Homo sapiens: one gene and its partner. The protein of the gene in region 2 interacts with the protein of the main gene of each other region in a pairwise test. Each region holds a gene or a part of one and is shown on either strand. Other genes may lie near its edges. The genes, in order: SMC3 and MCMBP.

What was found.
Region 1: the proteins of MCMBP (region 2) and SMC3 interact in binary tests that used the Homo sapiens proteins (3 or more experiments, as listed by UniProt).

What each region holds. Positions count from the first base shown.
Region 1 is NC_000010.11:110,573,912-110,577,733, reverse strand, and holds part of SMC3 (structural maintenance of chromosomes protein 3), read right to left. Parts: intron 2,399-3,822; coding exon 2,331-2,398; intron 1,375-2,330; exon of another isoform or gene 1,273-1,374; intron 314-1,272; coding exon 242-313; intron 1-241. UniProt on the Homo sapiens protein: Central component of cohesin, a complex required for chromosome cohesion during the cell cycle. The cohesin complex may form a large proteinaceous ring within which sister chromatids can be trapped.
Region 2 is NC_000010.11:119,866,310-119,870,131, forward strand, and holds part of MCMBP (mini-chromosome maintenance complex-binding protein), read right to left. Parts: intron 1-3,822. UniProt on the Homo sapiens protein: Associated component of the MCM complex that acts as a regulator of DNA replication.

The DNA of each region.
Region 1 (3,822 bases), 9.3 Mb from region 2:
AATTTCAATTATCTCACTAAAAATAATACTACAAATACTCAATACTCTTAACCAAGACACTTTTCACAACAGTTTGTACATTCCCATTTGTTAACAGAGTATTCATTGTCATTTTAAGATAAAATCAGTATATAAACTGTAATTATAACAAATTATAAAAGCTTAAAAAGTTTCAAAGTATGAAGAAAATCAGCTAAACCAATTAAATTCTCAACATTACTTTAAAAAAAAAGTTACTTACTGGTAACCGGTTGTCTGAATTATCAAAAATAATCTCCACAAAAGCAGAAATAACACGAGGACCAGTACCTTCCTAAAAATGAAAGAAGTGAGAAATTTGCCATTTAAGTTGTATATTCATATCCTTTAAAGGATTCTTAAAGTCTAGGGCATAATAACAAGTCTGATTCAATGGAGAAAAATTTCTGCTAGATTCATATATACACACACACACTAATCTAACGTCTCTGCTCTTTTGGCAAGAGGGATACATACTTTGGGGATATCCCCAGAGTTATAGTATATATCCCTCTTGCCAAAACAGCAGAGACGTTAGATTAGGACAACAAAACTTCTCAACCAAATAGCTTTTGATTCTAAATAAAAAATAAGAGCTATGCAAGACATGTCAAAGTTAGATATCCTTAAATATGATTCTACAGACCACTTTATTAGACTGCAAGACTGGGGACATTTAACTCTACCTATTTGCTAATATCTAATACACCATGAGGCTTTTCTCTTACAGTCTCATTTTAATGCTGCAAAGAAATCCTAATAAATCATGGGATAATTACCAAAAGTCTGTTTTTTAAGAAAAATTGAGACATTCTACAGTTTTAAATCTATTATAGAAATATACACATTTAACATGTGTCACATTTAAACCAATCTATGACACAAAAACTATGGTACCAAGTCCAGATACCTTCCAGATTATAGAAACTATGTAGTAAATACAATGAAGAACTGTACCAAAGAGGTTATTAATTATTTTAATGCCAATCTGAAAAACCTAAAAAGAATTTTTCTAAAGGAAATCAATTCTGATTACTGGGCTACAAATTCAAACTAAACAAGGGGAAAAGACAGACAAGAGCTAAACAAAACAATTTCCTATGTGTGAGAAACACTGTTAAGACATGTTGAGGAATTTCATTTTCTAGTCTTTAATAAACAATATTCAAATCAGAAGGATTAATCGTTTTATTGTAGTCTTTCATGATTTTCTATCCTAAAATTACTTTAGTCCATTACTCATATTTTTTTCCACATCACATTGGTAATGTGCCAATGTCCTAACAAGGTTTGAGGGAGGCATGACTCACATGAACACGAAAACCCAATCATCGTGCTTATGCATTACAAAAGGACCCACTTAATAAAATATCCTAACTCACATTACTGTAAATATACAGGTGGTCCCCAACTTACGATGGTTCAACAAATGGCTGAATGACAACGTGATAGCAGTCTACATTCAGTAGAAACCATAATTTGAGTATCCATAAAATCACTGTTTTTTACTTTCAGCATAGTATTCAATAAATTATATGACAGATTCAACACTTTATTATAAAACAGACTTTTGTGTTAGATCATTTTGCTCAACTGTAGGCTAATGTCCATTTTTGACTTATGGTATTTTCAGTTTATGATAGGTTTATTAGGACATAACCCCGCTGTAAGTTGCAGAACATCTCTACTGTTTTTCATACTGGAAAATGATGTTTACTATCTAAGTACAAATATGGCTAAAACAACAAACAACTTGTATGTTGTTTAGTTTGCAATGGTTGTTTCTCTATGTTCCCAATTAATTTTTGGTTCTGCATCTTAAAGTTCCTAATCTGCAACCTCAAACTCTTCTTTCTCCTCAGCAAACCTGCTTCTTAAGCCTTTGCAGATCACATCCTTAAAGAAATGTACATGGAGGACATACCCACCTATAGGCAAATCCTATAATTTTCTCCTAACCATCACATAAAAATTAGGCCTTTATCTGGCATTAACATGTTAGGCTAAATTTCACAGCAGAATAAAACACTTATGATATATATCATGTCTCCTTTAAGACATTTATATGGAGGACATATCCATCTATAGGCAAATCCTATAATTTTCTCCTAAACCACTGTATAAAAATTGGGCTTTTATCTGGCATTAATATGTTAGGCTAAATTTCACAGCAGAGTAACACACTTATGAGAAAGATTGTGTCTTGTTCACAAAGAATCTGAAACTTGAACAAATGCTTTTTTAACCAGCATGGAAAATTTATTTTTAAAATATATGTAATATCAATAATGTCTTAAAGCAGTCTCACTCACATGCAATAAAGCCAACCGCTGTTCTGGACGAAGATGACTAAACTCATCACTGAGAACAAACTGAATTGCTGGAAATACAAAAACAACTATTAGTATACCCTAAAAAAGTGTTTATAACTTATTTATAACTTCCCACACCTCAATAGAACATAGTGTGTCTGGTAATAGACAATGCAAATAAATTATCTGTTTCATATGGACAAAAGGAAATGCAGAAAATGTGCCTGCACATCAGACTAATCAGGTAGGAAATGATATAAGAAAAATACTGAGAAGTTTTCATTGAAACATTTAAGGTAAGGAAATAAAGAGAAACCACCGAAATACATGAAAACAGACAAGCAAAACTAAGGTATACCTCTGGCTCAAAGTGTTCACTGACTGGATTAGGTTAACACTGTATTTGCTTTTTTCCCCACTAGACATAAATGATATGAGTTAAAATCCTTTTTAACAAAATAGGATGTATTTTGAGAATATGCTTAAGTGGATACTTTACCAAAAGAAATAAAACTAAGGAAATACAGGGAAATGTTTGAGATGCCCAACTTATACTACACTTCTTATACTATACCGAGCTCTGTAAGAAGGGGCCGTTCCTACTTCGGTATAGAGTACCTAACTGGACCACCCTGCCTAGGAAGTGGAACTCTTTACTCAGCTGTTCTTGTCCCAGTCCACCCAAGAGACCTCTGGCACTGTGTGTGTGTGGAGGTGGTGGGGGTGCCCACATCAGCAAGTACGTGCATAAGCATTAATGTGTGTGCTGTGGACACAGGTCGAGGTGAGGAGACTTCACACTGCCCTGGAGATTCTGAAATACTTCCACTTCAGTCCATTCTCTCATCATTGCCAAATTACAACCACAATAGGATATACAGGCTAGAGAGTGCCTTTCAGATTCGTGTGCACAGAAGAGATAGAACCTTTGTTCTTACTAAGCCAGTCCACTAAATGCCCCTTTCCCTCAAGCATTACCCAACTAAAAAGTTCAAATTTTTCAACCTACTCCTTAACTGTCTAATTTTGTTAAAATGTTTTTCTCCTCAAAGGATTTGTTAACAGACGCATTGCTATTTACACTTAAATGCAATTTAGAGAGAATTTTTGAAGCTCTATTTACTATCTTCAAAGTGACAACAGTCTGTTCAGTTTCAAGTTTTTTATACCTCTTCATCCTTTACAAAGATGATTGGTTTAGAAAACGTTTTCAAAAAGGTGAAATAAGAAAGATGAACAATTTTCCAAAACAATACTATCAACTATTCTACTGCATTTACATACGTTTAAAATATGCATTTATAACATTTATATATTACATTCAAGTTTAAAAAGCATTTTCATACATACTATTGCATTCCATTCTTACAAACCATCTAAGGTAGACAGGGCAAACATCCAAACATCTCCATTTTTAAAGTGAAAAGAAAAATTTGAGAGGCTACGTGTTTTGCCCACTCTCACACAGCTAATCAGCCACTGGGTATAAAGC
Region 2 (3,822 bases):
GGTTTCTTTTTGGAGTGATGAAAATGATAGGGGTGGCCGGGCGTGGTGGCTCATGCCTGTAATCCCAACACTTTGGGAGGCCGAGGCGTGTGGATCACCTGAGATCAGGAGTTCAAGAGCAGCCTGACCAACATGGTAAAACTCCGTCTCTACTAAAAATACAAAAATTAGCCAGGAATGGTGGTGCATGCTTGTGATCCCAGCTACTTGGGAGGCTGAGGCAAGAGAATCGCTTGAACCCGGTAAGCAGAGGTTGCAGTGAGCCAAGTTTGCACCACTGCACTCCAGCCTGGGCAACAGAGTGAGACTCCGTCTCAAAAAAAAGAGAAAAAGATAGTGGTGGTGATGGTTGCACAACATCATTATGAATACAGTAAAAAAAATTCAATTGTACATTTTAAAATGTTAAATTTTGTTATGTGAATTTTATTTCAAAGAAAAAAAATTTTTTTGGACCAGCCTGAGCAACATAGTGAAACACCATCTCTACGAAAATACAAAAAGTTAGCTGGGTGTGGTGGCAGGCGCCTGTAGTCCCAACTACTCGGGAGGCTGAGGCAGTAGAACTGCTTGAACCTGGGAGGTAGAGGTTGCAGTGAGCAGAGATCGTGCCACTGCACTCTAGCCTGGGTGACAGAGCGAGACTCTGTCTCAAAGAAAAAAACCTCTAAAAGCAAAAACAGTTAAAAGCGGTTACTTCAGGCAGGGCACGGTGGCTCATGCCTCTAATCCCAGCACTTTGGGAGGCCGAGGGTGGTGGATCACGAGGGCAGAGGAGGTCGAGACCATCCTGGCCAACACGGTGAAGCCCCGACTCTACTAAAAATGCAAAAATTAGCCAGGTGTGGTGGTGGTCGCCTGTAGTCCCAGCTACTCAAGAGGCTGAGGCATGAGAATCGCTTGAACCTGGGAGGGAGAGGTTGCAGTGAGCCGAAATCGCACCACTGCCCTCCAGCCTGGGCGACAGAGCGAGACTCCATCTCAAAAAAAAAAAAAAAAAAAAAAAAAAAAAGTGGTTACTTCAATGGAGGGAGCACGTACTTTCACTCAGTTCATACCATCATGTTGATTTTTTTTAAAACCATGTGTAAGTTATTATAACTTAAAAACTCCTACGTATGCCATCTGCCATGGCTGCCGGAGCTATTCTTCTTCTTTGAGAACGCCCCCAATGTTGAGGTGTGGATAACAGTCACGATTGTCCTACCTAACTCTGTGCCATGGCCACAGATGACTGATCCCTGAGTGAATGGATTCCTGACTCCATGTTGTGCCAATCAGATTTTCTATGCCTGAAAATAAAGATGCTAGCTAGCGTGGGTTGGAACCGAGAACAAGTAAATTTGGGAGACATGGAGTAGAGAAAGAGAAAGTGTGCAGAGATTAATGTATCCCAAGAGAAGAAATACTGAGTTGCTTGGATTCCTGCTAGCTTTCCAGTTCCTGATTCCACTCAGTCTCTTCGAATACCCAACCACTTCCCCTGTTCTTGGGTTTTATAGCCTTAATATAAATTAACTTTTTTCAGTGGCCTACCAAGGACAGAGTGGTAGAAGAGGTCCAAGCTGGGTACAGACAATAAGGGCACAGATTGTCTGTTTAGATTCATGGTGATAATAAAAAGCAGACCAACTAACTTTTAGTTCATTTTATTATTGCTTTAAATTCTCTAAAATGCTAGTGATAAAATAGTCTGCTCTGCCCCTCTTCACCCAACCCTGCTCTTTTTTGCATGAGCTAGTCTAGTTCTGTTAGATACAACCAAAGAAGCTTAAATATAACGAGAATAATGATCTTGGTCTAACCAATAGTTGAAGGGAAAACAGCTAAAGAGGCTGGGCGCAGCAGCTCACACCTGAGATCTCAGCACTCTGGGAGGCCAAGTGGGGGCAGATCACTTGAGGCCAGGAGTTCAAGACCAGCCTGGCCAACATGGCAAAACCCTGTCTCTATTAAAAATAGAAAAATTAGCCAGGCATGGTGGTGCACACTTTTAATCCCAGCTACTCGAGAGGCTGAGGCATGAGAATGGCTTGAACCCAGAAGGCGGAGGTTGCAGTGAGCCGAGATCACGCCACTGCACTCCACCCTGGGCAACAGAGCAAGACACTGACTCCAGAAAAAAAGAAAAGAAAAATTTTGAGATTTGTGATCTCACTAGCCATTTCAATTAACAACATTTCTGATTAATCAGTCTTTTCACTGCTTTTGTTCAACAAGTGTCCACTGAGCACTTTCAATGTACAAGGCAAATTCTAAGAAATTAGGATACAGTGGTGAATAATGCAGATACAGGGGCCCTGAATTCGCGGGGTCAAAATCCAGCAAAGGAACTTCCGAAACAAGGAATTTCAACAATGCACTTTACACACTATTTTTCAAAGACATATATAATAGGATCCTGCAGTAACATGGAGCAGGGGTACCCTACTTTGGTACCTAACTTAAGTTCCCAAAGGAAAAGTAAGACTTAGCCAGAAAAGTGGACATGGGATGGGAGGGGGAATCAGGCACAAGAAATCAGCAGATGCAAAAAGGCCTAGACACAGGTTCAAAATTAAAGAACTGAAAAAAGGTTCAGTGCGGCTGGGATGGAGTATGAGGAGGGGGTACGCAGTGATAAAGTCTCAGAGCAAGGCAAGGGTGGAGCCAACAAGGGCCTCATAAACCACTTTAAAAGTCCTGGATCAGATAGTAAGGGTAACAAGAAGTCACTGAAGGACTTGGTTCCAGTATGGCAGGTGGAAGAGAAGCAAGACTGGAGGCAAGAAACCAGTTAGAGGGCTGTTCCAGCGTCCAGGAAAGAGACTACGATGGCTTTAATTTTGACAGTAGCATTGGAGATGAGGGTCTGGGTCGGGCGCGGTGGCTCACGCCTATAATCCCAGCACTTTGAGAGGCCGAGGCAGGCAGATCACCTGTTCGAGACCAGCCTTGCTAACATGGTGAAATCCTGTCTCTACTAAAAATACAAAAATTAGCGGCTCGGTGTGGTGGCTCACGCCTACAATCCCAGCACTTTGGGAGGCCAAGGTGGGCGGATCACTAGGTCAGGAGTTCAAGACCAGCCTGGCCAACATGGTGAAACCCTGTCTTTACTAAAAATACAAAAATTAGCTGGGCATGGTGGCATGCACCTGTAATCCCAGCTACTCAGGGGGCTGAGGCAGGAGAATCACTTGAACCCAAGAGGCAGAGGCTGCAGTGAGCCAAGATTGTAACACTGCGCCCTAGCCTGAGTGACAGAGCAAGACTCAGTCTCAAAAAAAAAAAAATTAGCTGGGCATGGTGGCAGGCACTTGTAATCCCAGCTACTCCAGAGGCTGAGGCAGAATTGCTTGAACCTGGGAGGAGGAGGTTGCAGTGAGCCGAGATCACACTGTTGCACTCCAGCCTGGGTGACAAGAACGAAACTCCATCTCAAAAACAAAAAAAGCAAAAACAAAAACAAAACCCCTAGAACGGATAAGATACAGTGACCAAATTCAGATCCTGAAAGAGAGTCAGTGAGTAGCTGGTTATCCAAAAAAACTAGCATCACATACTAAAAAGCGGTGTCCTCTAGATCAGTGCTGTACAGAGAACTTCCTGATGTTAGGAATATGCTAGATCTGTGCTAATATAATAGCCCCTATCCACATGTAGCTACTGAGCACTTGAAATGTGCTAACACCGAGGAGGTGAATTTTTAATTTTGTGTAATTTTAATTAATTTACATTTAAATAGCCACACATGGCTACTGCCCTGGACAGCACACTCTAGATTATTGTGACACCTAACTTAAAATATATGACAGGGTTAATAAGTTTATACAATACTAT